2 separate regions of the Homo sapiens genome follow, and region 2 is linked to region 1. The links come from fine-mapping of genetic effects on plasma protein levels. Region 1 holds a variant in brackets. A gene starts in the other region. All regions are shown on their reverse strands.

Region 1 (15,214 bases):
AGGCTGAGTTGAAAAAACTGAGACCTACCAAGATGAGGGGCTCCTCTTTGCAATCAGAATTGAGAGGAGAGTCCACATGTCAGTCCTGGTAGAGCTGTTCTCTACTAGGGTCTTCCTTATCATGAGCCTGGGTCCTCCTCCGCTACCCCTCTGGCTCTCCGGCTCTCCGCTCTCCGGGTCACTGGCTGTAGCTATTGCCTGGAGCCAGTGGGCTGGAACCCTCCCTCCCTCCTTCCCTCTTGGGCTATAATTATTTGTGCATTTCCTGTCCCCTTCCCAGCTTGTGGAAGCAAGGTAGGGGGTAGGGAGAAGGTCAGGTGCCAGGACAATAGGTCACTGGAGGATCTCCTGGGACCTGAAGTCTGGGAGGGAGTGGAGGAGGCCACCAAGCTGTCTCCTGACTCTCCACAGCCCCCAGAAATGAAGGGCTGGTGTGCAGGGGAAGGCCAGAAAGGTGGGGGTAAAGGTTGCTGGAGTGTAAATGGGGTCAAAGGCACCAAAACAAGGCCTTTCCGTGCCAGGTGGGCGTTGGTGACTAGAGGGAACTTAGATTTTTAGTGTTTAGAGGCAGGCGGCCACTCCCTCTTCTGATGACCAACTTTGGGGACTGGGGTGGGGAGGTTTCATTCCATCATGCCTATATTTGAGAGGCTCTGGGTACCTGTGAAGCTGTACTTCTTACCTCTTGATGATGCCTTTAGCCCAGGGAAGGCTTCCGTGAGGGAATGAGTGCCAGCTGTGAGCATGCACGCCCATGGTGAAGGGGTGGAGCCCGAGTCCCAGGAAGACAGCACTGCCAGTTATTGAGGCCAGACCTCCCTCTTCGAAAGCCAAGGGGAAAACCCATCAACCTCCCAGAGAAGAAGTCTGAAGACAGCTCTTTCTGTTCCTACCTAGACCAGGACAAGAGAAAATGAAAGCGGGTTACAGTAGGAGGGCTTGCAGTTAGATACAGACTAAGATAAGACTTAACAGCTATTGCAAAAGTGACACTGGAATGGGATGGAAGAACATCTTTGGAAAATAAGAGGGGGAGGTGAGATCTTGTCTGATGTCCGGGGGCAGGGGCAAGATCAGAGTGACCTGTGGTGGGTTCTACTAGCTCAGGGAAGTCTGAGATGATTCTCTTTGTGTGACTGTTCTTGGGGAAGTGGCCCTGTTTTGTAACTCCGAGAACGCACTTTCATTCAACCTATCCAAATAATAGTAGTAGTTAATAGTTATACAGTACTTATGTGCCAGACATTATTGAAAGAGGTTTGCCTTTATCATATCAAATAATTCTCACAACAGCCCTGTGAGATAGGTACTAATGTCATCATCTCCATTTTATAGATGTGAAAACAAAGCCACAGAGAGGTTAAGTGACAGATTCAGAGTTACGCAGCTGCTAAGTGGCAAAGCTGGGCTTTGGTCCCAGGCAATCTGGCTGCAGAGTCCAAGCTCATAACCACATAACCACCATGCTGCACTTCTCTCTTGCTACGAACAGTAACACTGACACCTTAAGGCATCATCCCGGCCCCATGCACCCTTCCCCTGTCCCACCACAAGCAGCCCTAGCTTGACACCTTAGCTATGGCCCAAGGGAACTGGTCTGACAGGTCCCCAGGCTGTCTGGCTCTGTGCCTGTCTCTCCAGCCCAGCTCTGACATTCAGTGACAGGGAGTGAGGGTGGGGCAGGCCACAGTGCTGGTGCCAGGGGAGTTAGTGCCTCCTCTTCCGCCCTGAACCCTTTCTGTTCAGGAATGAGAGTGGGGAGTGGGTGAGGAGGACCTTCACCTTGACTCATATCAGCTGCTTCTTCCCAACTGAGAACCCTGAAACTGACATGACTAGCATTGTATTTTTTTGCACTGTGTCCTGGTAATAGGGCCCATCATGAAATAATAACATCTGATCAAGTCAACTAAACTTACTAAGTAGTTACTATGATCCAGGCACCATTCCAAGTACTTTATATTATTAACTTTTTGATCCTCATAACCCTTTGTGATAGGTACTATTCATATCATCAACCCCAGTTTACAGATGAGGAAACCGAAGCACTGCAAACTTCAGTAATCAGCACGAGCTCACACAACCAGATGGTAACGCAAAAGCTAGGATTTGAACCCAAGCATCTGGCTGCAGAGCCTACACACTTGACCACTGCCCTTGAATAGCAGCCCTCTCTCCGCCCCATCCTAGAAGGTTGGCAGGCACACAAACATCCTGGGGGCACAGAGAGGGTAGAATAACAAACCTGTCTATCTTTGTCTAACCCAGTGGTTTCCAAACTTACTTGCCCACAGAACTTGCCTGAAGGCAGAATACCTCTACTGTCTGTGCCTATAGCACAAAGCTGAGGAAACATGGGAATAGGCATAATGGAAGACGGTAGGGCATAATGCTAAGAGCATGGCCTTTGGAATCAGACATAGGTATGAATCCTGGTGCCCTTATTGACCAACAGTTAGGGCAGGTTATAGAACCTTGGAGCTTTCTTTTCTCTAGCTGTGAAATAGGAAACAAATACCTACCTCTGGGGTCAGCACCAGTAGCAGAGTTATTCAGTAGAATCTTACCTTTCTAAATAGTTGTGTGATCTCTCTGGGCTTTTGCTTTCCTTGTCAAAATGAGAGGGATTCCTTAAAGTCCCTTCCTCAGTGCTCATGGACTAGGGCCATTCTCTGACCTGCATCCTCATCCCCTGGGGGAGGACAGGAAATGACCAACCTGGCCACGTGACCCAGCACCACCCCTCCTAATGTGCCCTCTCCCAAGTCAGAATAATACCAGGAAGGGGGCTGGTGCTGGAGCCTGGGTTGTGGGCTCCAATGGGAGTTGGGGCAGGGACTGGGGCCACCTGGGCATTTTGATATGAACAACAAGTCATTAGCACTCAGGCACTGTTTGTTCCGACACAGGGGGCTGGCTGGGTAGCATTCCTGCCCTTCCTCCCTTCCCTGGCTCCTCCTCCTTCTCATTTCCTGTCGTTAAGTCTCCAGGGCTCTGTGTCTGGCACTGGGCTGGGCCCCATGACCCGGGCAGGGATACCCTTGGGACACCTAGTGACTTCCGCCCAGCCCTGGGCCAGGCGCCTGCACATGCCAGACCTCAGGCCTCTGCTTGGGCACGCAGTGCCAAGATGCCTGTGCCCAGGGCCCTGCCAGCACCAGGACTGGTTGTACTGCAACTCCCCAGCAGGTCCTTTTCAGGGACCTGAAGCCAGATGGGAAGCTAGGAGAGAGGTGGCTGGTGAGGGGAGAGGAAAGGGGCAGGTGGGGTGGGTGTAGGGAGACTGAGAATGGGAGCACTTCTGGGTGGGAACTTGAACTTCTCCACAGCTGTCTGGCTGTCCGAAGTATGCGCAACTGAGTTACACAAGGTACCTCACCTCCAGGCTTTTATTTCCTTGTAAGTGACAGAGGACAGACAATGCCTGCTCTGCCTATTTCACATCTGATCCTATTTTACATGAGATCCAATGAAATCAAGGGGGCGATTGTGCTTTGTAAACTGTAAAGTGCTTTGTAAACTGTAAAGTGAGCCCTTTGAGAGGGCTCGTAGATGGTAGAGCATCCTGTCCAGAGATGTCCACAAACCCCAGATTCTCAGGTGGTAGGAAGAGAAGGGTCGTGAGGGGCTTTCATGGCCATTATTCCAGGGCGTACAGGCCCGGGAGTTCCAAATGGCTTGTTACCAAGGGCAGGGAATCCTTACTAAGCAGTGTTTCCATGATAAAGTGCGTCTTCCTGAGCCAGTCCTGTGTGCCACCAAGGACTTATTCACTCTCGCAGGGCACAGGCTAGCAACATCTCAGAGAAGAAAGACGCTTTCCAGCAAGCAGCCCCACCCTAATGCCTCACAGATGAGTACTAGCTAACATGTGCATACAACTATATGCCAGGCAATGCTTTAAACATTCGATGTGTAGCAACTCATTTAATTCTCCCAAAACCTCATGAGTCGGTATTATTAGTGCTTTGTAGATTTTACAGTTCAGGAGACTCAGGTAGGGAGGGAGAGGTTAAATCATTTGTTTCAGGTCACATCTGCCATCAGTGGGGAAGCAGAGATTTTAATCCAGGAGCCTGGCTCCAGGGTTTGTGTTTTGACAACCAGGCTGATCCGAGGCCCAGAGATGGCAAGACACCTGCTCATGGGCCTGTGGAAGGACACAGAACCTGGCTGGGGATCAGGTCTGTGACCCCAGCCCAGGAGCGGATGTTCCCAGGCCTCCTGAGCTGCTCACATCCTGGCTCCCATCTCCCAGGTCTTCTTATCTCATGTCCTCATGCTCCTTCCAGCTCCCTCACTTCTTTCCCCCAACAGGGGCAGTTCACCTGGGGGCATGGGCACACCTGGGCCCTGAGTAAGCAGAATGGGTGTCTTAGGGCTCTCAACTGTAGGGAGGCAGTCCTTGAGTTGGGTTTGGTGATCAGGATGGCAGGGTGGGAAGAGGCGATGCCCGGGGCACAGGGTGCTGAGTGAATATTTGTTTATTTGCTGAAGGAGTGGCCACATGGATGCATTTGGGGTTGGGGCCTAGGCAAGAGTGGGAGTGATGGGGGAGGGGAGGTATCCAAGAGCTGGGCTTGAAGACCTCACACTGATGTGCACGCTTTCCCTGCTGCCCCCAGACACCACTCACCAACAGCGAGGAGTCCCTGGATTTCAGCGAGAGCCTGGAGCAGGTAGAAGCCTGGGCAGGGTGGAGCTGGGACAGGCAGCACCATGAGGGGTTCAGAGCCTGAACTGCTGTGCCCTTCCTCCCTCTAAGGCCTCCACAGAGCGGGTGCTCAGGGCTGGGAGGCAGCTGCATCGGCATCTGCTGGCCACCTGCCCAAACCTCATCCGAGACCGGAAGTACCACCTTAGGCTCTATCGGTGAGTGGAGGCCCTGCTGCCTCCTTGCCCAGCCTCACTGCTTTCTCTCCGTTCCACTTTATGTCAGGCACCTGGGCCTCACCCTGCTTCTAGCACAGGGACGAACCAGGCTTGGGCCTCAGAGGGTGCCTTTCTAATGCATAGTTCCTCCCTCTCCCTGCCACCCTCCTTCCACTGGCCTGTCCCCTTCTACCTTCCATAGGCAGTGCTGCTCTGGCCGGGAGCTGGTGGATGGGATCTTGGCCCTGGGACTTGGGGTCCATTCCCGGAGCCAAGTTGTGGGAATCTGCCAGGTGCTGCTGGATGAAGGTGCCCTCTGCCATGGTGAGCCCGAGCCCAGGGTGGGGTGCCCCGGGCTGGGCTGGGCAGTGAGGGGGACAGGACAGGGCAGTCCTGGGAAGCAGGCACTACTTGGGGAGTGCTGAGGGGTGGCATCGCAGTGGGGTTTCATACCCACATAGCCTCAATTTCCTCTCCTCCCCCACGCCTGGGCCTCTGCCCCCCAGTGAAACACGACTGGGCCTTCCAGGACCGAGATGCCCAATTCTACCGGTTCCCCGGGCCCGAGCCCGAGCCCGTGAGAACTCATGAGATGGAGGAGGAGTTGGCCGAAGCTGTGGCCCTGCTCTCCCAGCGGGGGCCTGACGCCCTGCTCACTGTGGCACTTCGAAAGCCGTGAGTCAGAATCCCTGCACCCCGTGACCCCAGGCCTCACACAGCACTCAGATTTCACGGTTTCTCAGATTGATCTCTGGGGGCATCCCTTACCTGTTGTGGAGGGAAGGGAACCTGGCTGGCCCAGAAGCCCCTGGCGCTGACTGCCACGGACTCACTGTGTGACCTGGATCCCTCCACACTCCCAAACCCCCCCAAGTCAGTTTCTTCCTCTGTAGATGAGGATGTTGGACCAGGGGGATCTCTGAGGACCCTTCCCACTCAGAGACACAGTTGTGGCTGAAAGCAAGTGGGTTTTGGAAACTGCAGTCCGGTGGGTCCAGGTTCAAATTCCAGCTGGACTGGCTACTGGCTGGGTGACCTTGAGCCTCCTCATGCTAGTTCCTGTTCTGTCAAGTGAGGATGATAGAACCACTCCTTAGGGTTGTTGTGAAACAATGCATGCAAAATGCTCATCACAAGCGCTGCCACATGTGCGCACTCAGTAAAGGTTAGCTGCTGCTGATAACTGTCACTGCTGAGGCACCGTCTGGCACAGGCATCGGCTGGGTGGGTGGAGTGGCTCCCTGCACCTGACGGGCCCACAGTTCACAGTGTGCTCCCATTCCTCCTGTCCCTGCAGCCCAGGTCAGCGCACGGATGAAGAGCTGGACCTCATCTTTGAGGAGCTGCTGCACATCAAGGCTGTGGCCCACCTCTCCAACTCGGTCAGTCCTGCCCCTCCCAGCCCTGCCCCGTACCAGGCATCTTCTCTTCCTGTGACTTCCCTGAAACTCCAACTGCTGGGCCAGAGGGCATTTCTCCACTTCCATCTATGGCTGGAAATTTTCAGTCTGATTTCTTGCCCCCGGCGCTGCCCTGTCTGAAAATCCTTCCGCCTCTCTCAGCCCATTTTCTCCACTTGCTTTGTCTCCTGCTGAATCCTGGGAACACCTGACCTGGCCACATCTTTGTCCCCCAGCACTTGTGTCTTTGGACCTAACCACACCCCTAGCAAAAGCCTGGCTGCTCTGCACATGAACTTGTCGCCACCGACTCTCCTATCTCCACCACACAGGTGAAGCGAGAATTAGCGGCTGTTCTGCTCTTTGAACCACACAGCAAGGCAGGGACCGTGTGTAAGTCCAGCAGGGCATAAGAAGCCAGGCACAGGGCCTGGACATGGGCAGAAGGATGTGTGAAGGAATGGTAGGTGCCAGGAGGGCCCGGTCTGAGGTATGCTTCTGTCAGTGTTCAGCCAGGGGGACAAGGGCACTTCGTGGTACATTATCTGGAAGGGATCTGTCAACGTGGTGACCCATGGCAAGGTGAGCCCTCCCTCCTCCCCACCCCAGTGCCCTGGGTCCTAACTGCTCCCTGGTCCATGTCCTCATGGGCAGTGCCTTTGTTGATCTACTGCTGCTGACCCCGTGTCTCCTGTGTGGGTTGTTCTCCTGCCGTGGGTCTGTCCTGGCAAGAGCTGGGGGCGGCAGGGGCGGCAGGGGCGGGCTGAGACTGAGGCCTGGCTGCAGGGGC[T/C]GGTGACCACCCTGCATGAGGGAGATGATTTTGGACAGCTGGCTCTGGTGAATGATGCACCCCGGGCAGCCACCATCATCCTGCGAGAAGACAACTGTCATTTCCTGCGTGTGGACAAGCAGGACTTCAACCGTATCATCAAGGTGCTGCTGCTGGGGTTGGGGAGGGCAGGGGCCATTCGTCCAGAGAAGTGATGTGGAGAGAGGAGTAGGGACCAGAGCAGAGGGCCTGTAAGAAGCAGGGCAGGTAAGAGATGCTGGGCTATGACAGCTGGCAGTGGGACCATAGCCCTGGGTGTGTGTGAGAAGGTGAAGCCCATAAGGCACAGAAGGAGTTCAGTGAGACCAGTGACTTCAGGCTCAGTGTGGGAGACCAGGGGAAGGATGGGCATGCAGGGGGCGGGGGACTAGGCTGTGGGGGAGGCAGGATGCATGGAAGGTAGGGAAGGCTGAGGAGGTGGAGCCAAAGTCGGAGGTGGGAGAAGGGCTGTGGGTCCCTGTGGGACCCTCATGGGGCTCAGGGGCTGGAATGAAGGAGGTAGATGAGAGGGTCTAAAGCTGGAACATCATGAGTTGAGCATGGGATGTGGCCTGTTCTCCAGGATGTGGAGGCAAAGACCATGCGGCTGGAAGAACATGGCAAAGTGGTGCTGGTGCTGGAGAGAGCCTCTCAGGGCGCCGGCCCTTCCCGACCCCCAACCCCAGGCAGGAACCGGTAATACACCTGCCATGCTCCCTCTCCACACTGTCCCTCCTTTCATTTCCCAATCTTTGCTCCCTTCCCCTGTGTCATATCCCTGCCCTCTGGCCACTTGTGGATGGAGAGGTATTGAGGGACCAGGATGTGCCTGCTGAGCCAGTCTCCTCCCTGCCCTAAGGTGGGACAGGGCTGGCTAATGGAGAAAAATGATGTAATTGATTATTGATGTCTGCCCAGGTGTGGGAGTGGGGAGTAGTGGCACCAGTGCCAAAGATTGGCCATTTCTGCTAGGTATACAGTGATGTCTGGCACCCCAGAGAAGATCCTAGAGCTTCTGTTGGAGGCCATGGGACCAGATTCCAGTGCTCATGACCCAACAGGTAAGGGCAAGAGACACCCTGCCTGCTTTCTGACTCATTGGGTGGTCCATGGAGCCTGGGAGAGAGCCAGGTACCCTGCATCTGACGTCACCGAATGCTGGATTGGTCTGTACAGAAGTTGGCAATAAGTCCTCTTACCTGTGCTCTTGGCTTAGTGGGGAGCACTATCACAGGGGCTGGACACTGCTGGGACCTTGCAGGTGGTGGGATGTGGGGAAGGGTCCTTCCAGCTGTCCATACACCTGTGCTCAGCAGACTTGGCCTCTGAAGCCTCCTCCCATCCCCTCACCCTGTCATACAGAGACATTCCTCAGCGACTTCCTCCTGACCCACAGGGTCTTCATGCCCAGCGCCCAACTCTGCGCTGCCCTTCTGCACCAATATCCTTCCAGCTCCAGGGGGATGGTGTGCATGGGGATAGGATGGTGCGTGGGGTTGAGAGAAAATCTCACCAGCGTGGCTGTGCTGAGCCCTTTAAATGCCAGCCTGCTGCCAGGCCCAGCTTGCCAGGGGCCCTGGGCATCCTGCCCCTCCTTTGCCTCAGGTGGGTGGCCCTGCTTGGATGTTGTGGTTCCCTTGACTGGTGCCCACCTTCCATGTGGAGCCTGCGGGTGGCAGCGAGCAGGAGCGCAGCACCTACGTCTGCAACAAGAGGCAGCAGATCTTGCGGCTGGTCAGCCAGTGGGTGGCCCTGTATGGCTCCATGCTCCACACTGACCCTGTGGCCACCAGCTTCCTCCAGGTACCTGGGAGTGAGGCACAGCGGGGCTGGGCTGCCCGGGGTGGATGCAGCTACAGCCATCTCAGTGAATCTTGGCTCTTCTTAGAAACTCTCAGACCTGGTGGGCAGGGACACCCGACTCAGCAACCTGCTGAGGGAGCAGTGGCCAGAGAGGCGGCGATGCCACAGGTGATGCTTTGACTCTGTTAATTTGTCATTTCCATAACTGGCAGTGCCATGGGGACCAAGAGCATACGCTCTGGAGTCAAGCACTTGGCTTCAGATCCAGGCTGCACCACTTACTTCAATTCCTTGTTCTTATCAGTCCCCTTGCTGTTCACCCTCACACCACATGTCCCTCCATTCTCATGCATCAGGCACTCATTCATTTATTCATTCTCATATCCTGAGTGCACCTGCTGTTCTCACTTCCTCCATTGGGCATGCATTTATTACCAAATACCCTCAGTGCCAGCTTCTGCCAGTCCCGCCCGGTACATTTCCTAGACTTTACCTTCACCTTTGCAGATATTCCCACGGGAGCAGCTGAGATTCAGGGGGGTTGGGAGCTCATCTGAAACAGCACTTGATCTGAAACCCTGGGTCTGCATCTGCCTTTAACTTTTTCCTTCCCCTCCTGGCCTTGGAAAATCACAAAGTCTGGGGGCCTGGTTTCAAGACCGTGTTCTCCCCTCTTTATGTGATACTTACCTGGTCGTGCTTACCTCTGAACCACTGGTGAGGGCCGGGGAGAATCCAGAGCCCCAAGGGCCTCCCTGCTGCAGCCCCAGGGATACCTGGGCTCACTCACCTCCCTTCTCTCTTGTCTGCAGGTTGGAGAATGGCTGTGGGAATGCATCTCCTCAGATGAAGGTGTCTGCCTGGCCCCAGTTTCTTTCCTCTGCTCCTCCTGGACTGCAGGCCCCTCCTTCGCCCCCTGACCCTGAGGGGCTCTGTGGGCGTGGGAAGCTCTCCTCCCACAGACACACCCTTGGGTCTCTGATAGGTGTTCACGGGGCCCTTGCTGCATGTGGTGCCCTGGGCCAGGCCGTGCCAGGAGGCGCAGAGGCCTAAGGTGGCCTCCCTCCTCGCCCACTCCCTGACTCAATGGGCCTTTTATTCCTTTTGGGAGGTAATTCATGCCCACAGGTAGAGCCTGGGAGATGAGGAATGGTGGCTGGAGTTGGCCCCTGAGGCCCACGGGGCTCCTGGTGGCCAGTGCTGTGGGAGCTCAGAGGAAGGCGAGGCCCCTCCCTGGAAAGTCAGAGGGGGCCCCAGGCCATTCTCAGCTGGGGCTTAAAGGGAAGCAAAGAGGGGATGAGAAGATGTGACTGCAGCCAGGATTTGGTTGAGGAATGGTGGGAGAAAGAACTGGAAAGGTAGATTAGGTTGGTGGTGGGGAGGGCTGCACTGGGAATAAAATCCAGGGGCCTCACCATCCAGCAGGCTCCCCATGGTCCCACCCTACTGTGTGTCCCAGCCCCTGCCTGCTGGAGACTCTTACTGGCTTCTTCTCCTCCGCAGGCGAAGCCCGTTCTCCCCTCAGGGCCTTTGCACTTATCCCTTAGCCTGGAAGGGTCTTTCTCTGGCTCTGCCTGGCAGGATCCTTCTCGTTCTCATCTCAGCCAAATGCTGGGTTCCCAGACAGGCCCCCTCCCGTCTCCCTATCCGGAGCACCCTCCCCTTTCTCCCACCACGCTCTGCCTTGGTGTCCTCTGTGATTTTCTTCAAAGCACTCTCGCCATGTGGAGTTGTTTTCTTTGCCTACTTGCTTTCTGTCCTTTGGTATCTCTCCCATCCCACTGGAGAGTTGACTTCCCTCCTGCGGGCCCCCACCTCCGCTTCTCCTTGCTCACATGCTGCCTGGCTCTTGGCTGACGCTCAGAAACTGATGTGGGCTCACCCTCGCAGGCCGGGCACTGCGCTAGGTGCTGATGCTGCACCTCATTCAACCCTGGCCTGTGGGGCTGCAGTCAGGCAAGGGGCAGAGCAGTTCAACAACCCGTGATGTGCAGTGACACGGGACACTTTCCCTGAATGTGCACTGGAGTCGGCTCTTCCAACTGTAGTCCGCTCCTGAAAACGGGAGGGGAAGAGCCAACTCCAGTGCAGATTCAGGGAAAGTGTCCCGTGTAAGCGACTACTGGAGTTGAGAGCTGCAGGGGGCAAGGGTGGAGGAAGAAGAGGATTCCTGGTGGGCAAACCCAGGAGGAAAGGGAACCCAGGAGGAGGATCCCTGGAGGAGCGAGAGTAAGAGTAGGACCCCAGAGCAGGCAGGAGGTGGGCAGGGCCCCCTGGGCCAAGGACAGGGGTCTGATCTTTGTCCTAAGAGCAGTGCAAACCATTAAAGGGGTTTGAGCCAAGGTTGGCAAAGTCTGATTTGTGTTTTGAATAGGTCAGCTAAAGAGCCTGGGCTTTCTCCAGCAGACAATGGACGCCACTGAAGTCGAGTGCGGGAGCTTCACAGGGCTCTGGTCAGGCAGATTGGAGGAGGAGGGCTGGAGGCACCTGGGAGGGAGGAGGAGGAGCATAGTTGGGCCATTGGAGTAGATAAGGAGTGAGGCCTCGTGGGCAGGTGGAACTGGAGTTAGCCTGGGCAGGGGAGGAGGGGGCACAGAAGACCCACTTCAAAGAAGAATCTTCAAAGCAAGATGACAAGCTACGGAAGTGTGGAGGAGCCTGGAGCTGGGGAGAATGGCTGGGGAACAGAGTGGTCTGGGAGGCAGGATGCAAGGATCCGATGGGTATATGGAGTGTGAGGTAATGGATCATTCATGTGGAAGGATGCAGGGGGTTTTTGAGACCAGGGTTTGGAAGAGAGTTCAGCACTGCTGGTAGTTTTGGGAATCACCCATGTGCAGGCGACACATGAGGCAGTAAGGAACTCTGCAGGGGTCCCTGAGATTTGGAAATGTAGGGAAGAGCAATGGATTGAGGTCCGAACCTGGAGGATCTGCTATACGCAGAGCTGGGAGGAGGGACAGAGTCAGTACCAGAGTCGGAAAAAAGCAGGGTGGGAAGGGGAACCTGAGTCAGGAGACTTGCCTGGCAGGCGCTGCCCTGCCAGCAGAGGCCTGACAGTGGTTTCCATGAACTGCATCCCTGCTGTGGGCTGGGACAGGGCCACTGACACAGTATCGGAGCACAGAGGGGGAAAGGAGCAGGAGGGATTCCAACTCTGCCAGTTAGCAGCTGTGTGGCTTTGGGCATGTTACTTAACCTCTCTGAGCCTCATTTATTTCATCCATAAAATGGAAATAAAAATAATACTTTTGTCAAAGGCGCATTGTGAATATTTAGATCCTCAGAATAATGCCTGGCTTGTAGCAAATGGTAGCTGGAGGAAAAGGAAGAGAAAACCAAAGTCAGCAGCTGAAGGATTTTCATATTAGAACTGCTCTGGACCTATCTGGCAGATGCAGAAGCACACACACACGGAGGGGCATGGATTTGCCCCGCCCTTAGACATGTTGTGTCTTCTCCTGGATCCTTGGTCCCAGGTGCCTTACCTGAGCTCAGGTGAATGTGGCAAGCAGAGCCCTCTGGTGGTGTGAATGCTGTGTGGCGCCCGTGCTCCTGGTGACACAGGGACCTCACAATCCCTCCCTCCACGGTCTCCTCTCATGTCCTCCCAGCCTTATTTTCTCGTTCCTCTTCCTCCCAGGCCCGGAACTTGCCTGTTTGGCTCCCCAACCAGGACGAGCCCCTTCCTGGCAGCAGCTGTGCCATCCAAGTTGGGGATAAAGGTTGGTGGTCTGTGCCGGCTGGGCACAGCCCGACATCTGCACCCTGCTGTCTCTGCCTCTCTTGTCCTGCTGTCGTCACTCTTGACCTCGGTGTGCCTGGGCCAAGGTGGCACGCTGTACTCCTCAGGGTCTGTGTTCCAGGCTGCTGGCTAGATCTGCCTCCTACCTGCCTCTTTTTTGCTCAGGGCCTCCCCACCTGCAGCTCAGCCTCTTGGGGATCCCTCCCACCATTACTGCAATAGCCGCCCTCTCCCTCCTGGGGTGGAGATCAGGCAGCCCTTCCCACAGCTCAGTCTGGTCTCCTCTTCAGTCCCCTATGACATCTGCCGGCCAGACCACTCAGTGTTGACCCTGCAGCTGCCTGTGACAGCCTCCGTGAGAGAGGTGATGGCAGCGTTGGCCCAGGAGGATGGCTGGACCAAGGGGCAGGTGCTGGTGAAGGTCAATTCTGCAGGTGGTGAGTTGTGCCCCTGGATAGACCCCAAGGGAGGGTGGCCCCTCGGATCTGCGCCCAGGTCCCCCAGTCAAGATCATTGTCATCATTGTCATCTTTCTGGTCTTCCTCAGTGTGAATGATGGCTAGCATTAATGGGAGGTGGAGTGCGTCTGTTCGAAGTGCATTTCATGCAGTGTGTAAGAGCATGAGCTCTGGAGCCTGCTGCTTGCATTCGGCACCAGCCCTTTAGCTCACCATCTGTGTGTCCTCTGGCAGGGTACTTCATCCCTCTGTGCTCAGTTTTATCATCCATAAAATGGGAATAGTAGGAGTACTTGCCTCCTGGAGGAATTGTGAGGATCAATTGAGTTCATCTATGAAAGCATTTAGAATGGTGCCCGGCACATAGTGATACATAAGTATTAGCTGCTATTATTATCATCATTTGTGTTTAGTCATTTAATATGAATTAATAACAATCTCATGAGATACAGGTACTTTTATCCTATTTTCAGACAAGAACACTGAAGCTCAAAGGGCATGAGCTATTCCTCAAGCTCACACAGTGAGAGTAGCTGGTCTTGGAACTTAAGTAGTCTTCATTTGTTTAGTCACTCAGCAAACATTTTTGAGGATCAGCTATGAGCCAGCAATATGTTAGGAGCTGGAGATACCACAGCAGGTAAAACAGGTCAGCTTGATGGTTAAGAGCATAGACGGTGGACTCCCAGACCCGTGAAGGCATCTTAGGCTCACCATTTACTAGCTGTGTGATGCTGGGCAAGTTGCTTAACCTCTCTGAGCCTGCATTTCCTCACCTGTCAGATGAGGACTGTAATTGTATCTACCCACAGGGTTGCAATGGCTAAGTGAGCTAATGTGTGTAAAGCACTTAGCACAGGGCCTGCCAGTCAGTGCTGAGAACATGGCGGGCTCAGGAGTATTAAGATGGGCCTCCAGAGAACCTGGAACATTCAAAACCACTGTTCTCTGCGGAGGGCACGGGCTTGACAGCTGGAACCCAGGGCAGACAAGAATTAGGGGCGTTCAAGAAGTGGGGATGAGAAAAGAAAAGCCTTCTCCCTTCAGGAAGTGGGGAGAGATGGTCACCTGTGTGCCCTGCCCTGGGAAGCACTGCCCTCTGCTGGCCACCTGGTGAGTTGCAGTTGCCCAAAGGTCATGTTTATTGAGACCCTACTATGTGCCAGGCACTGTTTAGAGCACTGATCTCCGAAGCACTTGGATCGACACCCATGTCAATAACCAACATTTAATTAAAACCCACACCCCACTGTGTGAATATTTGTTTGTAAGTAATACACATATATTACTACATTAATATCATAATAAAGATAGATAAAATAGAAATTGATGGAGTAGAAATGCAAAGCAGGTAGAAAAAGTAAACGTAAGTAGAAGAGCTCATATTTTCCCCAGGCACATGGATGATCTGATGTACCTTACTTTGGAGGCCACTGCTCTAGGGACTGGGGACTCAAGCACAGTCCCAGTCCATGAGGAGCTGATGAAAATCAACACCAAGGCTTATATAAGACACTTCCCAATTTTCAAAGGGCTTTTATACATAGCATGTACTTATAGCTACTATTTATATACATTATTTTATTTGACTTATGAAATAGTTGGGGCAAGTCTTATTGTCTCCATTTTACCAGGGAAGAAAGTGAGGCTGAGGGAGGCTCAGACCCTGCCCAGGTTCTTCCTGACTCACTGAGAATCTTTCCTCATCCTCTTGGATGTGCTTCCCTGGGCTGCGTGGCTGCGTGGGCACATGCACCTGTGTATTCTGAGCACCACCCAGGACTTCAACCCCGCTACTAGGAGAAACAACCTCTCAGCCTCCCAAACAGCACCTCCACCCTGGCATCCAGCTGGTCCCCGGCCTCCCTCCCTTCCCCCACCCAGTCCGCCTCTGCTGTCTTTGCAGATGCCATTGGCCTGCAGCCAGATGCCCGTGGTGTGGCCACATCTCTGGGGCTCAATGAGCGTCTCTTTGTTGTCAACCCACAGGAAGTGCATGAGCTGGTAGGGACCAGGCAGGGTGCCAGGGCCCAGGGAGGAGATCTATTTTGAGTGTGGCAGTGGTGGATTCTGGGGAGGGTCCCAGGGAGAAGAGGGAGGAGGGGCCTGGCTCTGGCTGCTGCTGGGT
Region 2 (15,214 bases), not on the chromosome of region 1:
TGGGAAGGGCGAGCCGGGGCCCGGGGGCCAGCGTGGTGGGCGCGAGGGAGCCACACAGCGCCGCGCCGCACGGACACACAACACGCTCGGTGACACCGGGGACACACAACACGGGCGAGCGGCCGCGGCTGGAGCAACAAAGGAGCCGAGGACCGAGAAGTTGCGGGCCGGAGAGGGAGGGCGCGTGCGGGCGTGTTGTGGCTGTGGCGGGCGTGAGGGTGTGCGCGCCGTGTGTGCGCGTGTGTGTCTTTTCTGTGTGTGTTTGTGTGTCTCTGTGTGTGTGTCTGTGCGCGCGCGCGGCGGCTGACACCGGCGGGCCGGGGCTCAGGGTCCCCGCGGCAGAAAGCGGCGGCCGCGGGGGCGGCAGCAGGAGGACAACGCAGGGGACGCCGCGCCCAGCGCACCCGGTCCCTCCATATGGAAGAAGCTTTTTGGATGACTGAACTCGCAAACAATTCCTTCTTTTGCTTCTCCTGCCTAGGAGCCTCCCATTACCGTGCGAGGAGGAGGAGGAGGAGGGAGTGGAGGAGGCTGGGAGGAGGGGGAGGAGCAAAATGGAGCAAAGAAAAAGTCTTGGAAAGGAAGCTGGAAAAAGTCCCCCAAACTCTAGGGCAGTTTTCCCGTTAACACCCACTTTTTGCTGTGCCTCAGACCCGCGCTCTCCTCCAACTTCTTTTGCTTTCCCATACCAAAAGCACCATCTTCTCCCTTTTCCCCGAACCCAGGGGGCTCCCCTGAAGCCTTCACTTTCTCTTTAGCTTCACCTCGCACCCTTGCTCTTCCATGTACAATCCTTCCCTCCTTTCGCCTAGTCTCTTCCAAGACTTTCCTGACACCCACCTCTCAATGGTCTTCTTCTTCTGCAAGACAAACTGTTGGATAAATCATTAAAAGCAAACTCATCAGAAAATGGGACAGCGGCGGTGGAGAAAATGATAAGGAAACCAATCTCAGGGAAGCCTTAACGCAGCCTCCCCCGACCCCCTCGGTCGGTTGGGGAGGGTTTGCCGCGTCGTCCATTGACAGCGCCCTGACCTCCATTCATCATCCCAGGATGGAGCCAGGGAGGAATGGGGAGGGAGAGCTGGGGCTGGGGTTGGGGGCATGGGTTGGGGGTGCTAGTGGCCACGGAAAAGTTAGTTACCTATGCGTGTGTATGTGTACGCGCACGCGCGCGTGTGTGTTGGTCAGAAAACTTTCAGAGCTGTGGTTCTCAAACTTGATCTGCAGCAGGACTCCCTGGAAGGCTTGCTAAATCCCTTTGCTGGGCCCCACCTCCAGAGTTTCTGATTCAGTAGGTGGACCTGGGAATTTGCATTTCAAATAGGTTCCCAGGTGATGCTGATGCTGCAGGTCAGGGGCCACGTTTTAAAAACTACCTTTCCAGGGCAGTGAGAAGGCAAATGTTGAGTTGGTGGCAAATTGGATTCCCTTCTTATTTTTTAGGAATGAAGCACAGGTTGTGAGCGGTCATCCATTCCGTATCTTCATTGCAGCTGAGAAAACCAAGTCCCAGCAGGGCTAAGCCATTTGTTTAAAGTGAACTGGGAGTTTGTGCCAAGCTGGTGAGGAAGCTGTCCTGGAAATAAGACAGCCAGGCTAGTAGTAGGGTGAATGGGGGTGCTGCCTTCCCTGTGTGGCTGGACAGCTGCACTGGGAGTCAGGAAGCCACTGTGACTTTGGAAAGTCACTTAACTTTTCTGGGCCTCTGGGGGTTTTGTGTGTGTGTGTGTGTGTGTGTGTGTGTGTGTGTGTGTGTGTGTGTGTGTTTGTTTGTTTGTTTGTTTTTTGACAGAGTCTCACTCTGTCGCCCAGGCTAGAGTGTAGTGGTGCAATCTCGGCTCACTGCAAAGTCTGCCTCCTGAATTCGAGAGATTCTCCAGTGTCAGCCTCCCAAGCAGCTGGGATTACAAGCACCTGCCACCATGCGCGGCTAATTTTTGTATTTTTAGTAGAGACGGAGTTTCACCATGTTGTCCAGGCTGGTCTTGAACACCTAGCCTCAAGTGATCTGCCCACCTTGGCCTCCCAAAGTGCTAAAATTACAGGCGTGAGCCACCTCACCCGGCCCTGTTTTGTTTTTTATTAACTTGTTTCTTGTCAGTAAACATACATACTTTACACTGAGTATAGGACTCTAATTGAATCTGAACCAAAAGACCTTTACAAAGGAAACATAAATGTATTTTATTCCATATTTTGCACTATTTTTTCTCCGGTATTTAGTCATTCAGGCAGAAGCCAATTTCCTTTTTGATTTATCGAGTACTTTCAGCTCTGTGCCTGGATTCTTAGGCATGTTCCTCTGGCAAAATGGATCTGGAGGATGATGCATTTTCAGCAAGAAGGTGAAAAGGACTCTGAACTCTCTCTGTGCATTATCCACCTACATTTCCTTTTCCTACTTAATCATCCTAATTTTCCTTCCCTTTTAATCTCTAACAATCTCCCCCAACATTCTCAAAGACCTATTTTTCTTTCCAGTCATTGACTATATTAGCTTCCACTTTCTTTTGTCCTCCTTCCAAGGCACAATTCTGGACTACAAGGCCTGGGGTCCACCCTGGGTACAGAACTTTTAATTCCCCCAAGGGAATGGGTCAACCAGCTTCCTCTGCAGTGATAACACTCCTTCTCCCCAGGGACCCAAGCAGCGTATCCAGCCTTCTGTTTTTCAAAGATGATTCCAAGTACCGCTCAATGAGAACGTGATGCATGAAGGTCTCAGATTCATTCTTTTATATTCCTGTATATACTATTCGTTGCTTGACATCTCAAAGATATCTTCTACCCCTTCTGTCATCTTTCTCCTAGGACTCTCCATTCTCTTACTCTGGTCTTTGGGTCCACACAGCCCTAGGCTCTGAGTTAAGCATCAGAACACAACAGAACACAAAGAATGTAACAGTCCCTACCAGCACCATTTAGTCAGGAGAATGACACACTGCCTTGTTCCTTCATGCATGCAGGCTGCTCACCTTTCTTTCTTTCCTTTTTTTTTTAAGATGGAGTCTGGCTCTCTCACCCAGGCTGGAGTGCGGTGGCATGATCTCAGCTCACTGCAACCTCCACCTCCCCGATTCAAGCGATTCTCCCTGCCTCAGCCTCCCGTGTAGCTGGGATTACAGGTGCCTGCCACCACGCCAGGCTAATTTTTTTTTTTTAAGTAGAGACGGGGTTTCACCATGTTGGACAGGCTGGTCTCGAACTCCTGACCTCAGGTGATCAGCCCGCCTCAGCCTCCCAAAGTGCTGGGGTTACAGGCATGAGCCACTGCTCCCGGCCTGCTGCTCACCTTTCTTATAGTTTAGGCAGAATGCAGATCACAGCTTAATAAAGAGGACTTAATTCTGCTGGCGGCATCAAGCACACTGTTGGTACCTCAGATATGTTTATTGTTTTTATTGCTCTTTGTATTAATGTGATTGTGTTTATTACTACTAGTCCTGTAAGAACAACGTATCTGAATTTTCTCCCCACTCCATTTTGCCTGGAGGGTATTTCTTGCCTAATTCCCTCCTCCCCTTTCAATTAGTTTCTCTATCTTAACCCACCCCAACCCATTCCAGCATCTCTAGCCATTTCAAAACAGTTAGGTGGAGTCTGGATCTTGTAAGGTGCTTTTTGCTACTGTCCGTTCTGTTGATGGTGATTTACCTCTAGCACCTTGCTTTCTTGGAAATGTTATGGGCCTCCACCAAGAAGGAAGCATTTGGTATGGAAGTGATCATCACATTAATTTAAATGCTTGGTCGGGGGAAGGAGTGGGGAGGTGAGTAGGGATTGTAGGTCTATATAAGTCACTATGTTGCTAGGCTGTGCAGAATAAACTGGAAGGAATTCAGTGAATGACATGAAAAGACGTGGTTTCCTCTCAGTGTGCTGTAGATACTCTACCTGTATCATATAAACAGGGATCTCTTTGACTGTGAAAGATATCTGGAGAGGATTATGCTGAGAAAATTATTAAGATGTAGACAAGAAAGAAGGACTTGATGATGTTTTCCTCTGTTTTAATATAAATCTGCTTTCCTGATTATAAAATATGTGCACTGACAAAAATTTAGAAAATGTAGAAAAACACATAAAAGAAGAAAATCAACTTAAAGTTACTACCCAGGGATAACATTGTTATTAACATAGTGGAGTGTTTTTTCTAGTCATTTTTCTTTCTTGTTTTTGTTTCTCATCAATACAAATAAACACGTTATCGACACTGAGTATATGATTCTAATTGAATCAGAATTGAAAGACATTTAAAGGGAAACATAATTGGGGTGAGTTTATTCAATATTTTATACAATTTTTAATGCATCTGGTAATTCAGGCAGGAGCCAGCTTCTTCATTGATTTATCTGGTACTTTCATATTTTACAAATTTGGGTTCATTGTACATACAGGTTATCATGCTTTTAAATTTAACATTTTAATGATTATTTTCCCCATATGTAATCTTCAAAATTTGACTTAACTGCTGTGTACTATCCCATCAAAGAGAGAGATTGTTATTTATTCAACCATTCTTCTATTGTTACATATTTAGATCGTTTCCATTTTTATTATCATCCTGTATTGCAGTTGACTAAACATCTAGCTATAAATCTTTTTGTTCTGATTATTTCCTAAGGGTAAATTCATGTAAGTAGGAGTTTGGGATCAATGGATAGGATATAACATTTTAAATGCTTTTAGTTGGTATTACAAAATTGTCCTCCAGTGGTTCCAATGTACATTTCCATCTCTCAGATTATTTTAATTAAAAACAACAATGAGATCATCAAACACAAGGTCCCAAGTGAAGACTTGATTGAATTATCTAGTCTGAATGATTACACTGAACAATAAAGAAAACAACTGCCAAATATTCACTTTAGTGGAAACAACACTCCAATGGGAAGAGCTGGGCACTAATTGCTTACCCTATGAACTGCATCATATTTATGATTTTATTTAACCTTTTCAACAAGCCTCTGAGAAATAAGCTAATGTTTATTGAGCACCTTCCTCTCCCAGTTTCTCTCCTGGATTCTGTGTGTACCTTCCATCTTGAATCCCCATAATGACCTTGTGCTATATAGGTGCAATTATCTCCATTTTATAGATAAGGAAAATTAAATAACATGCCTGAGATCCCCAACAACTAAATGGTGGTAAGAATTCCAAACCCAAGATTTTTCCAGTGAAACACACTACTTCACAACTATTTCATGAATTGCAGGCTACTTCTTGCAGTAAAAAAAAACTGTTTAGAAAATGCCCAAATTTTGTCTAGCCATTAAGAAGTATTTTATGGGCTTTCCAAGGAGTGTTTTTCTTTTTTCGAAAGAGACATTCAAGTGCATTCCAAGAACTAAGGTAACTTACTAATTGTAACTAATGTAAGAGTCTAAGGATATTATATACAGGAAGAGAATGGAGTTCTGATGTATGGGTTAAGATTAAAAATGACATACCGGCCAGGTGCGGTGACTCACGCCTGTAACCCCAGCACTTTGGGAGGCTGAGGGGGGCGGATCACGAGGTCAGGAGTTTTGAGACCAGCCTGACCAACATGGTGAAACCCCATCTCTACTAAAAATGCAAAAATTAGCCAGGCGTGGTGGCGCATGCCTATAATCCCTGCTACTCAGGAGGCTGAGGCAGAAGAGTCGCTTGAACCCGGGAGGCGGGAGGTTGCAGTGGGTTGAGATCGTGCCACTGCACTCCAGCCTGGGCAATAGAGCGAGACTCCATCTCAAAAACAAAAAAAAAACAAATAAACGAGATACCAAAATTCACAGTTTTAACAATATTAGTAAATTGGCTTTTGTACACATAACTATTCTCAAAAGCTTATATTTGGATAAAGACATTTTATCTTGATAAATGATACTGGAAATGAGATATTCATGAACCCAACTTTCTGCTTTAAAATTCAAGCTGTTGAGTGTATAAAGTGTCTATTTATTAAGGCAATATCTCAGTACAATTTCAAGATGCATAACATAATCCATTAATTTATAATTAGGAAAATTAGCCCTCATTTGCTCTTGACTGGACCATTAACTAGTTATCTGAGTTGGCTTACCGTTCTATGCTGGGTATTGCAAGGGCTGCTGGAGAAGAAATATGCCCAGTTGCTCTAAAATATTTGTTGACTGAAGGAAGAATGATGAATGAAAGTATAAGATTGACCTATGCAACAATTAGTAGAAACAATGCAAGACAGCGTATAATTAAACCCTAAATTGCATGGTTCAGGCAGAACTACAGGTGAGCCTGGTATGATGCCATCTATTCCTTATACAAGTTGAACTGGCTGGGACTGACTTCTCTAGCCCCAGGCTGTCAACTCAGGCATTCCTACTGGCTATATGTTCCGTTGACTTTTAGGAATTAATCACCAGATCCCCACAAGGCTCCCTATGGACAAGTGTACCCCAGGGGGAGAATGATATTTTATTTATTTATTTAGAGACAGGGTCTCACTCTGTCTTCCAGGCTGGAGTGCAGTGGTGTGATCTTGGCTCACTGCAACCTCTGCCTCAGCCACCTGAGTAGCTGGGATTACAGGCGCACACCACCATGCCCAGTTGATTTTTTTTTTTTTTTTGACAGTGTCTTGCTCTGTCACCCAGGCTGGAGTGCAGTTGTGTGATCTCGGCTCACTGCAAGCTCCGCCTCCCGGTTCACGCCATTCTCCTGCCTCAGCCTCTGGAGTAGCTGGGACTACAGGTGCCTGCTACCAGGCCGGCTAATTTTTTGTATTTTTAGTAGAGACAGTGTTTCTCCAAGTTGGCCTGGCTGGTCTCGAACTCCTGGGCTCAACTGGTCCACCTGCCTCGTCCTCCGAAAGTGCTAGGACTACAGGCGTGAGCCATTGTGCTTGGCCGAGGATGAGATTTTTAAAAAAAGAATATTGTGGCATCAAGACAAACCTGGGTTTGAATCCAGTCTTAAATAAGCTGCATGAGCTTAGACAAATTAATTACATCCCTAAACCCTAGTTTCTGTGAATATTGGAAATAATATATATGTACTATTTCTCTCTCTATATATACACATATATATGTATACACATATATATACACATACACATATATATATGTGTATATATGTATATATAAACCCTTGGTAGGCACTCAATAAATGGAGGGAAAATTAGTAAAAGTTTGAGTGAGAGGTGAAGCTGGGTTAGAGAAATGAAAAATAGAATAGTCCAAGGCCACTTCTGTGTGCTTGATTTTGCAAAGCCCTAGACAAATAGAATCTATTGACACTGAATTCCACGTGAGACCACTTTTCCAAGATATCAGATTCTCTAAAGCAAGCACAGCCCCCTTTCGTCCTCCATGACACCCCCACCTTCCTCATCTCCCGCCATCTGTTCTTCCCCCATCCCTTCACTTGTTAGGCTGAGACAGTTGGATTCTGGTGCTGCCCAGACTCCAGCTGTTTGACATTGTGCAGTGACGGCAGCAAAGAGGGCAGGGGCGCAAGATTCCAGATGAAAGCAAAAACTCAAAGAGAACTGGATCTCAGAGCTTTGATACTAAACTCAGTGGATAACAGCCTCCGTTAAATTTGTTCAGTCAGCCATTTAAGGGGGAAGAAGTTTCTCACACATCTTGTAAGGGTTTTTAGCAATGAGATGCTTCCATGGAGGGGAATCCATATTCTGGGGACTGAGCTGGGCAGAATCTAATGCCAAAGCTGCCACTGCAAGCTTTGAGGCAGGTATTATGCCATCTTGTTTTGTTCTACATGTGTTATTTTCTTTCTCCTTCATAAGATACCTGCGATTCTCTGAGACTTTTGGCCACAGCATCAGGAAACCTAACTATGCCTGACCCTACTCCACCTTACCCCACTTCTTCAAGTCCTCCACTCACAAGCAGAATTTAACAGGGAGGCCCAAGCTGCTCTGCAGTTCTGGTCATGGAGGGAAGGTTGACCGGCCTCCCTGGACAGTGGTTGGAAGCTCTCTGTGGACCTGCAGGCAGAGCCATGAGGAAGGGAGAGGAATTGACAAGAATATAGATTCTGGGGCTGGTGGTGTTGTAGAAGCCTCCCTGCCACCTCTCTCATTGAGAATCAGAAAACAGCTGTATATTCTTTGCCTTTTATTTGTTGAATTCATCAACTAGAAAATGGAATTGTTAGAGGCTTGGTGGTCCCAATACCTTGCATGTGAAACTGTGCCTGAGATAAGGAACGACTAAGAAAGTTAATCTCACAGTTCACTGATTCCTAATTATTTAAAAAGCAATATCTATAGGCCTTGTCCTTGTTTATTCAGGAGAGATGAAGATGGGATCATTCATGTCCTTGCCTTTCTTTGATGGCTCCCCACTTCCTTTGATATAAGGCACAAGTGCTCCCTGCTCCATGGTCTGGTCCAGCTCAACTCCCCAGGCTGGCTCCTCAGGGCCCCACTAAACTGTATCTTGTGCTCCAGTATCTCCTTGCCCTTCCTCAAAGCACCACAATTTATCATGCTTTCCAGCCTGCCCACTTTATTTCCTTCTGACTTATTTCCTTTCTCCTCTTTTCCACTCATTAAACTCCTACTTACCCTTTAAGAATTTTCTCTAACATCATCTCTTCTAGGAAGACTTACTCAAACCTTCCCTTCCTAACTCGGATTGCCCTCTAATGAAACCCTTTTTTGCCTTTGCCTGGCATCTACCATGAGCATTGTAATTATAATTGTGGATCTGTCTGTCTTCTTGCTGGAATATCCTCAACTACAAAGGCAATCTGTTTCATCTTTGTATTCTCAGGTTTGGCATGATGCCTGGCACATGGTGGATGCCCAATATATAAATATATCAAGTGGATGAAGAATTAACAAAATCAAGTATCCCTATTGTAGCACGGATATATATTAAAGCCTAATGGATCTACATGGTCTGTAATGTTGAAGGAATACCAATAACTAATACGGGGCCTGGGGTGGAACCACAGGTTTACAACTAAATACCGGGCCCTTGCCTAAAGCAGGTGAAGCCTGGTTTGTCTTAGCTATAAAGCTGTCTGTACACAGTATTTTGCATTTAGATGCTAATGGTATGTTTGAAATGATAGCGTATGACTGACTTTGTTTTTTAGTTTTTATTTGAGATAATTATAGAGTCACGAGTTGTAAGAAACAATACAGAGAGAGTCTCTATGCCTTTCATCCAGTTCCCCCGACAATAGCACAATAGCTAACCTAACTATAGTACAATATCTTAAACAAATGACATTGATAAACTCATCAGCCATATTCATATTTTGCCAGTTTTACATGCACACCTATTTGTGAGTGGTTTTATGTTTTCAAACTAATTTGTGGACCTAAAGCAGTCTATGGATTCAATACAACCTCTTTCAAAATCCCAATGGCATTTTTTTTTTTACAGAAATAGAACCATCTTAAAAGTCATATGGAATCTCGAGAAACCCTGACTAGCCAAAAGAATCTTGAAAAAGAACAAAGTCAGAAGGCTCACATTCCCGGCCTTCAAAACACATTACAAAGCAATAGCAGTTAAGGCGATGCTGTATTATCATAAAGATACATATATAGACCAATGCAGTAGAATAGATAGCCTAAAAACAAACCATCTTATATGTGGCTGAATGATTTTCAACAAGGGTGCCAAGACTACACTATGGGGAAAGGACAGTCTCTTCATCAAATGGTGATGGGAAAATTGGATGTCCACATGTAAAAGAATGAAGTTGGACACTTACCTTACACCATTACAAAAAATTAACTCAAAGTTATTAAAGACCTGAAACTAAGACCTAAAACTATTAAGCTCCTAGAAGAAAACATAGAAGAAAAGCTACAGGACATTAGATTTAGCAACAATTTCTTGATTATGACATTGAGAAGATAGGGAATAAAATTTAAAAATAGGTAAAGGGGACTACATCAAATTTAAAAACTTCTGCACAACAAAGGAAACAATTGACAGAATGAAAAGCAGCCTACAGATTGGTAGAAAATAATTGCAAGTCATATATCTGATAAGGGATTAATATCCAGAATATCTAAGAAACTTTAACTCAACAACAAAAAACCAAATAACCTGATTTAAAAGTGGACAAAAGATTTGAGTAGGCATTTACCCAAAGAAGATATGTAAACAGTCAATAAGCATATGAAAAGATGATCAACATCACTAATAATTAGGGAAATGCAAATCAAAGCCACAATGCAATATTACAAGTTGGCAACTCTCAAAAAAAAAAAAAAAAGAACCCAAATTAAGTGTTGATGAGGATGTAGAGAAATTGGAACCCTTGCACACTGTTGATGGGAATTCAAAGTGGTGCAGCCATTAAGGAAAACAGTATGGAGGTTCCTCAAAATATTAAAAATAGAACTACTGTATGATCCAGCAATCCCATTTCTGGGTATATATCCAAAAGAATTGAAATCAGGATCTTGAAAAAGAATTAAAATCAGGATCTTGACTAGATAGCTGTACTCCCATGTTCACTGTAGCACTAACTGCAGCACTATTCACAATAACCAAGAGGTAGAAGCAACCCAGATGTCCATAGACAGATGAGTGGATAAAGAAGATGTGATATAACCATGCAAAAATGGAATATTATGCAGCCTTAAAAAAGAAGGAAATCCTTTCACATGCTACAACATGGGTTAATCGGAAGGACATTATGCTGACAAAATGAACCAGTCACAAAAGGACAAATACTATATGGTCCCACTCATATGAAGCATCTAAAGTAGTCAGAATCAAAGAGACAGAAAGTAGAAAGGTGGTTATCAAGGACTGGGGATAGGGTATAGGGAGAAGTAGTTTTTAGGGGGATTAGGGTTTCAGTGTTGCAAGATAAAAATGTTCTAGAGATCTATTGCATAATAATGTGAATATATTTAACACACTGAACCATACACTTAAAAATGGTTAAGTTGACAAATTTAATGATACATTTTTTACTGCAATAAAAAAATGATTTGTAACTTATTGTATAGGTGCAGACCATCCCCAGAATGGCCACAGTCGATAAGAATCTGGATCATGCTCACTTGACCCCATAAAAGAAGGACTTGAGTCTCTCCCAGAAAGCTTATAGCAATAGAATTCATCCCTGACCTGGTCTCTGCTTTACACCCTCTTTGACCTCACTGTAGAATGTCTTATTCCTCTTTTGATGGGACAAGAAAGGATCTCATTTCCTGAAAGATACATATGAGTTAGAATAATTCCATCCACCCTTTTTTTTGTCATCAGCCAACACCAAGAGTTGCTTACATGATTCACAGGGTGTAAAATAAAAATGCAGGGTCCCAGAAGGAGTAGAGAAGTCAATCTCCATTTCTCATAACCCACAGAGGAGAGGTGACCCCCAAGGGATTGTAACCTCCAGACTGAGACATGCTAAGGGGTGGACTAGAGGTCCCTGCCAAGTCACTGGCTGAACATGCCTGAGAGCTGACAGCTTAGGGTGGGAGCAACCACTGCCTTGCCCTTTTTTTGAGGAGAATGGGGTACATGCCTTATCCTGAACCTCCTCATGGTTACACCCAGGACCCTGCCAAGTGGCAGAGGGTGACTGAGGTCATGGAGTGGGGGTGGGAAGGGAGAGATCAGAGGAGGCTAGGGCACCAGGGGGCAAGGGAGTGAGAGGTTGAGAACCTGTCCCAGGGAGGAGAGAGGCAGGGGCAGGCAGGGGCAGGCAGGACCACACATGAGCTGAGGCTCCAAACCCCCAGTGAATGCTCTATTATCTCATAGAATTTCACTTTCAAAATATAAATTCAAAGATAAGTTCATTAAAAATTTCACAATGGTATCCCCAGAAATTAAAATTGAGTGCAGGACCCTTCTGAGTGCAAGGCTCTGTGCAACTGCATTGGCTGCACAACTCATGACCCTGCTGGACACACCAAACTCAAAGCTATCTGAAATTGTAATCCTCTACACTCCTTGGGACTGGGATCCTCTCCTTTCTTCTCCAGTGTGGCCTAGGAATGATGGGAATGAACAGTGAAACTTTCTTATATTTGACCCCTCCTCAATGAATTTGTGTAATATTAGCAAAGCCCTACTTATTTAGAAGAAAAACAATGTGCTTATCTCACCATGTCTGATGTTTAAAAACAAAATAGTCTTAAACAGCCTGAGTAACAACAGGATTATCTAGCTGTCTGAGAGAGAAACTTGGGAATCATTCTTGACACCTTCTTTCTCTTCATTCTTCACAGGTAATTGTCATCACTACCTCCTATAGTGCCACATCCTAGATCTCTCCAGAATCCATTACCTGAGCTCAGTCTCTTCTGCAATTGTCCTAGTCCAGACCTTCATCATTTCTTACATGGAATATTACAAAAGCCTCTTGATTAATCTCCCTGCCTCCCCTCTGCCTCCCTCACTGGTCCATTTGCACATTCCTAATGGAGACATCTTTAGAAATGGCAACTTTGATCATGTCATATACTTACCCCTAAAATTATTCATTGATATCATTGACCACTTTTAGAATGAAATCAAACTCCTTAGCAAAGTACACTAACCCTTTCATACTGATCTCTGGTAAGTACTGCCCCAGTGTGGTCTCCAACCATTTCCCTACCTGACTCCATTCCTTTCCTCACTGTACAGAACTTCTTAGGAATGTTCCAGGATATTTAGTCTGTAGGCCTTTGTGTATGTGGGGCTCTTACTTAGCTAGTTAGTTCCTCTGACTTCTTTGCCCACTGGACCTTCCCAGCATGAGGGATGACTATTACCCGAGGACCCCTATCACTTGGTGTTTACCCTTATCAAAGCACTCTCTGCACTGATCTATAATTATTTCAGGCTATCACGTTTCTCAGTTGGGGGGATGCTGTTTCCATGTGGTGTATCTTCAATTTTCCTGACCTGCTGTGAAACCCATGGGGAGGGCCTGGGTCTTAATAATCATTGTAATTCTAATGCCTTGAAAAACTTCTGGAATATGGTAGGCAATAGGTAGATGTTTGCTGCAGAAAAGAGAGAGAAAGGGAGGAAGAACCGACCAGCTGCCACCTGTAACACTTCTTTTTTTCCTAGCCCTTGAGATTTCACACATCCTCCCTCACCAGTTAGTTGATGTCTTAAGAGTCGATATAGATTGGCGGCACAGCCAATGTAATTGATTATGCAGACACAGTTGCTTAGGTGATAGAAAGTAATGATTTGACCAAATTTGAGTGGTGGCTTTATACAGACATAGCTCAGCTCCTCCTGTTCATGTGAAACGCAGAGACGCAGAACTTTGCTTCCTCACAAATAACCAGTTCAAAAGATTACCACAGGCACTTTGAAAAATAAGTGGAAGTGGCTAAAGATCTACAAGAAAAAGTTCCAGTTTTATGGACATAGAAAAACAACTTAAAATTGTATAACATACATTTGTCAAAACCCATAGAACTATACTCCTCCAAGAGAAAATTTTACTGTATGTAAATTTTTAATAACAATCAGAATAGGGGGAGGGGACTCAAAATGGAATTCAAACTGTAACAATTAAATCCAACTGTATTACAAATTATTAACATAACTGTAATTTAGGGAGCGGAGAAGAAAAAAAACTAAGTTACTTCGGAAAACAGTATTTTGACTGGATACTGTGAGGCTAAACAACTACTATACTCTAGTTAGTAAACTTATGTCTCACAGGAGTATTGATTAGCAATTCTGAAACTACTTTGTGTGTATACTACAGTTGAACTAATAATTAAATACATCATCAATAATGAAAGCCAAATTTCTCACTATCCGAGAAAAAAGTTACAAATAGGGAAAGGGAAAAGGCTAGAATGAATTCTGGTGTCATATTGGAGTCAGAGATATCGGTATGAATTCATGGTTTTAAAAATATATATACAAAAAATACAGACTTATGTATGTACCTAGTACAATCCTAGTATTCATACATATATTTCCTAGTTCTGTCTATGGAGAGGAGTTAAAAACAATGACACCCCAGTAGCAGTGAGCACACCCAGCACTCAAATCTTGGTTTCTACATACTATTCTCCAGTGAAAAAAGAAATAAGGATACTTGGAAAAGTGTTTGATTCCAGGGCTGGGGCAGGAAAAATGAGCCAGGAGTATTTCGTGATGCCGAAAAAGTAAGGAAGTACTCAAAAAATGATGGGGGCAGCTATTGAAAGGGTAAAGGAGCCCAGCTGTAGCCAAAGAACAACAGTAAAATAAGTAGCAACTGTATTGGATTATAACCCATAGAACACAATAAATATTCAGGAATCCATACTGATGTAAATAAATAATTGGATAAATAAATAAAATAGAATGGCAACTCTTCCTTAAAGGAGACTTTCAAATAATAAATGTAGAAGGAGTTAGGGAAGTAGAAAATATTTATTAGAATACTACAGCAGTAATTTTTCAAGATCCATTGATTAATGCTAAAATTAGTAGTCTCAAAAGATCACCCCCAAGATATTTATTAATCACAAAGCTGAAAAAAGAATTATCTTTATGACAAAGAAACCCAAAAGATACCACCTTAACCGCATGACCAATGTTAACATCACTAGTAATAAGACATATTAGCCAGGCTTGGTGGCATGCACCTGTAGTCCCAGCTATTTGGGAAGCTGAAGCAGGAGGACTGCTTGAGCTCAGGAGTTCAAGGTTACAGGGAGCCACGATCATGTTGTTGCACTCCAGACTGGGCAACAGAGTGAGATCCTGTCTCTGAAAACAAAAAAAGAAACAATAACAATAACAACAACAACAAAAAACCAAAGACATATTGACTTTAGGTGCTGTTAGTAAGATGCACTGAGAAGGGCTTATCATTTCTGTGGTATTCTTGCCTCAAAGTGGAAAACATAGCTATACTAGAATTGAGTGACATTCTGCAAAATAACTGACCAATACTCTTCAGAAGTGTCAAGGTCAAGAAAAGAAACTTCTCATAGATTGAGAAGACCAGGGAGATATGATGACTGGGATCCTGGATTGAATCCTAGAACAGAAGAAGTATGTTAATAAAAAAGCTGGTAAAATCCAAAGAAAGTCCATAGTTTAGTTAATAGTATTGTAATGATAACAATTTCTTAGTTTTGATTATTGGATTTGGTTGTTAAAGATAATAACAATAGGGAAACTGGGTGAAGGGCATATGGGAACTCACTGTACTATATTTGCATCTTTTCTGTCTAAAATTACTTAGAATACAAAGTCAAAAAAATAAATGGGGACCATGCTGTTAAAAA

Direction of the effects. Positions count from the first base shown, and alleles are read on the strand shown. Strength reflects both the effect of a copy and how common the allele is.
As copies of T replace C in region 1, the plasma level of the protein whose gene starts at base 441 in region 2 goes down (weak association).

What was found. PIP is the chance, under the fine-mapping model, that this variant and not a neighbour inherited with it causes the effect. Protein levels are from antibody-based Olink assays in UK Biobank. Linkage for the fine-mapping came from a reference panel and not from the study's own genotypes, which makes the PIPs less certain.
Region 2: BOC starts here. The variant in region 1 is fine-mapped to the plasma level of the BOC protein (UK Biobank, PIP 0.98).

Annotation. Positions count from the first base shown.
Region 1 is chr12:47,741,381-47,756,594 of GRCh38, reverse strand. It overlaps RAPGEF3 (Rap guanine nucleotide exchange factor 3), which reads left to right. Exons shown (of 28, transcript NM_001098531.4): 3 at 4,626-4,679; 4 at 4,766-4,872; 5 at 5,075-5,196; 6 at 5,379-5,547; 7 at 6,170-6,254; 8 at 6,605-6,665; 9 at 6,778-6,854; 10 at 7,059-7,205; 11 at 7,664-7,776; 12 at 8,053-8,141; 13 at 8,443-8,521; 14 at 8,733-8,883; 15 at 8,969-9,051; 16 at 9,696-9,735; 3 more. It also overlaps a transcript of SLC48A1 not described here. Among named protein-coding and RNA genes, the nearest start is that of RAPGEF3, 9.9 kb to the left of the region's middle. RefSeq lists enhancers at 718-787, 818-987, 2,815-3,109, 3,594-4,135, 13,905-13,954. The variant T/C (reference allele first, on the strand shown) is at 7,063.
Region 2 is chr3:113,196,784-113,211,997 of GRCh38, reverse strand. It overlaps BOC (BOC cell adhesion associated, oncogene regulated), which reads right to left and starts at 441. Exons shown (of 20, transcript NM_001378074.1): 1 at 1-441. It overlaps LOC124909486, which reads left to right. Exons shown (of 2, transcript XM_047449436.1): 2 at 1-4,601. The coding sequence ends at 443. RefSeq lists an enhancer at 1-80.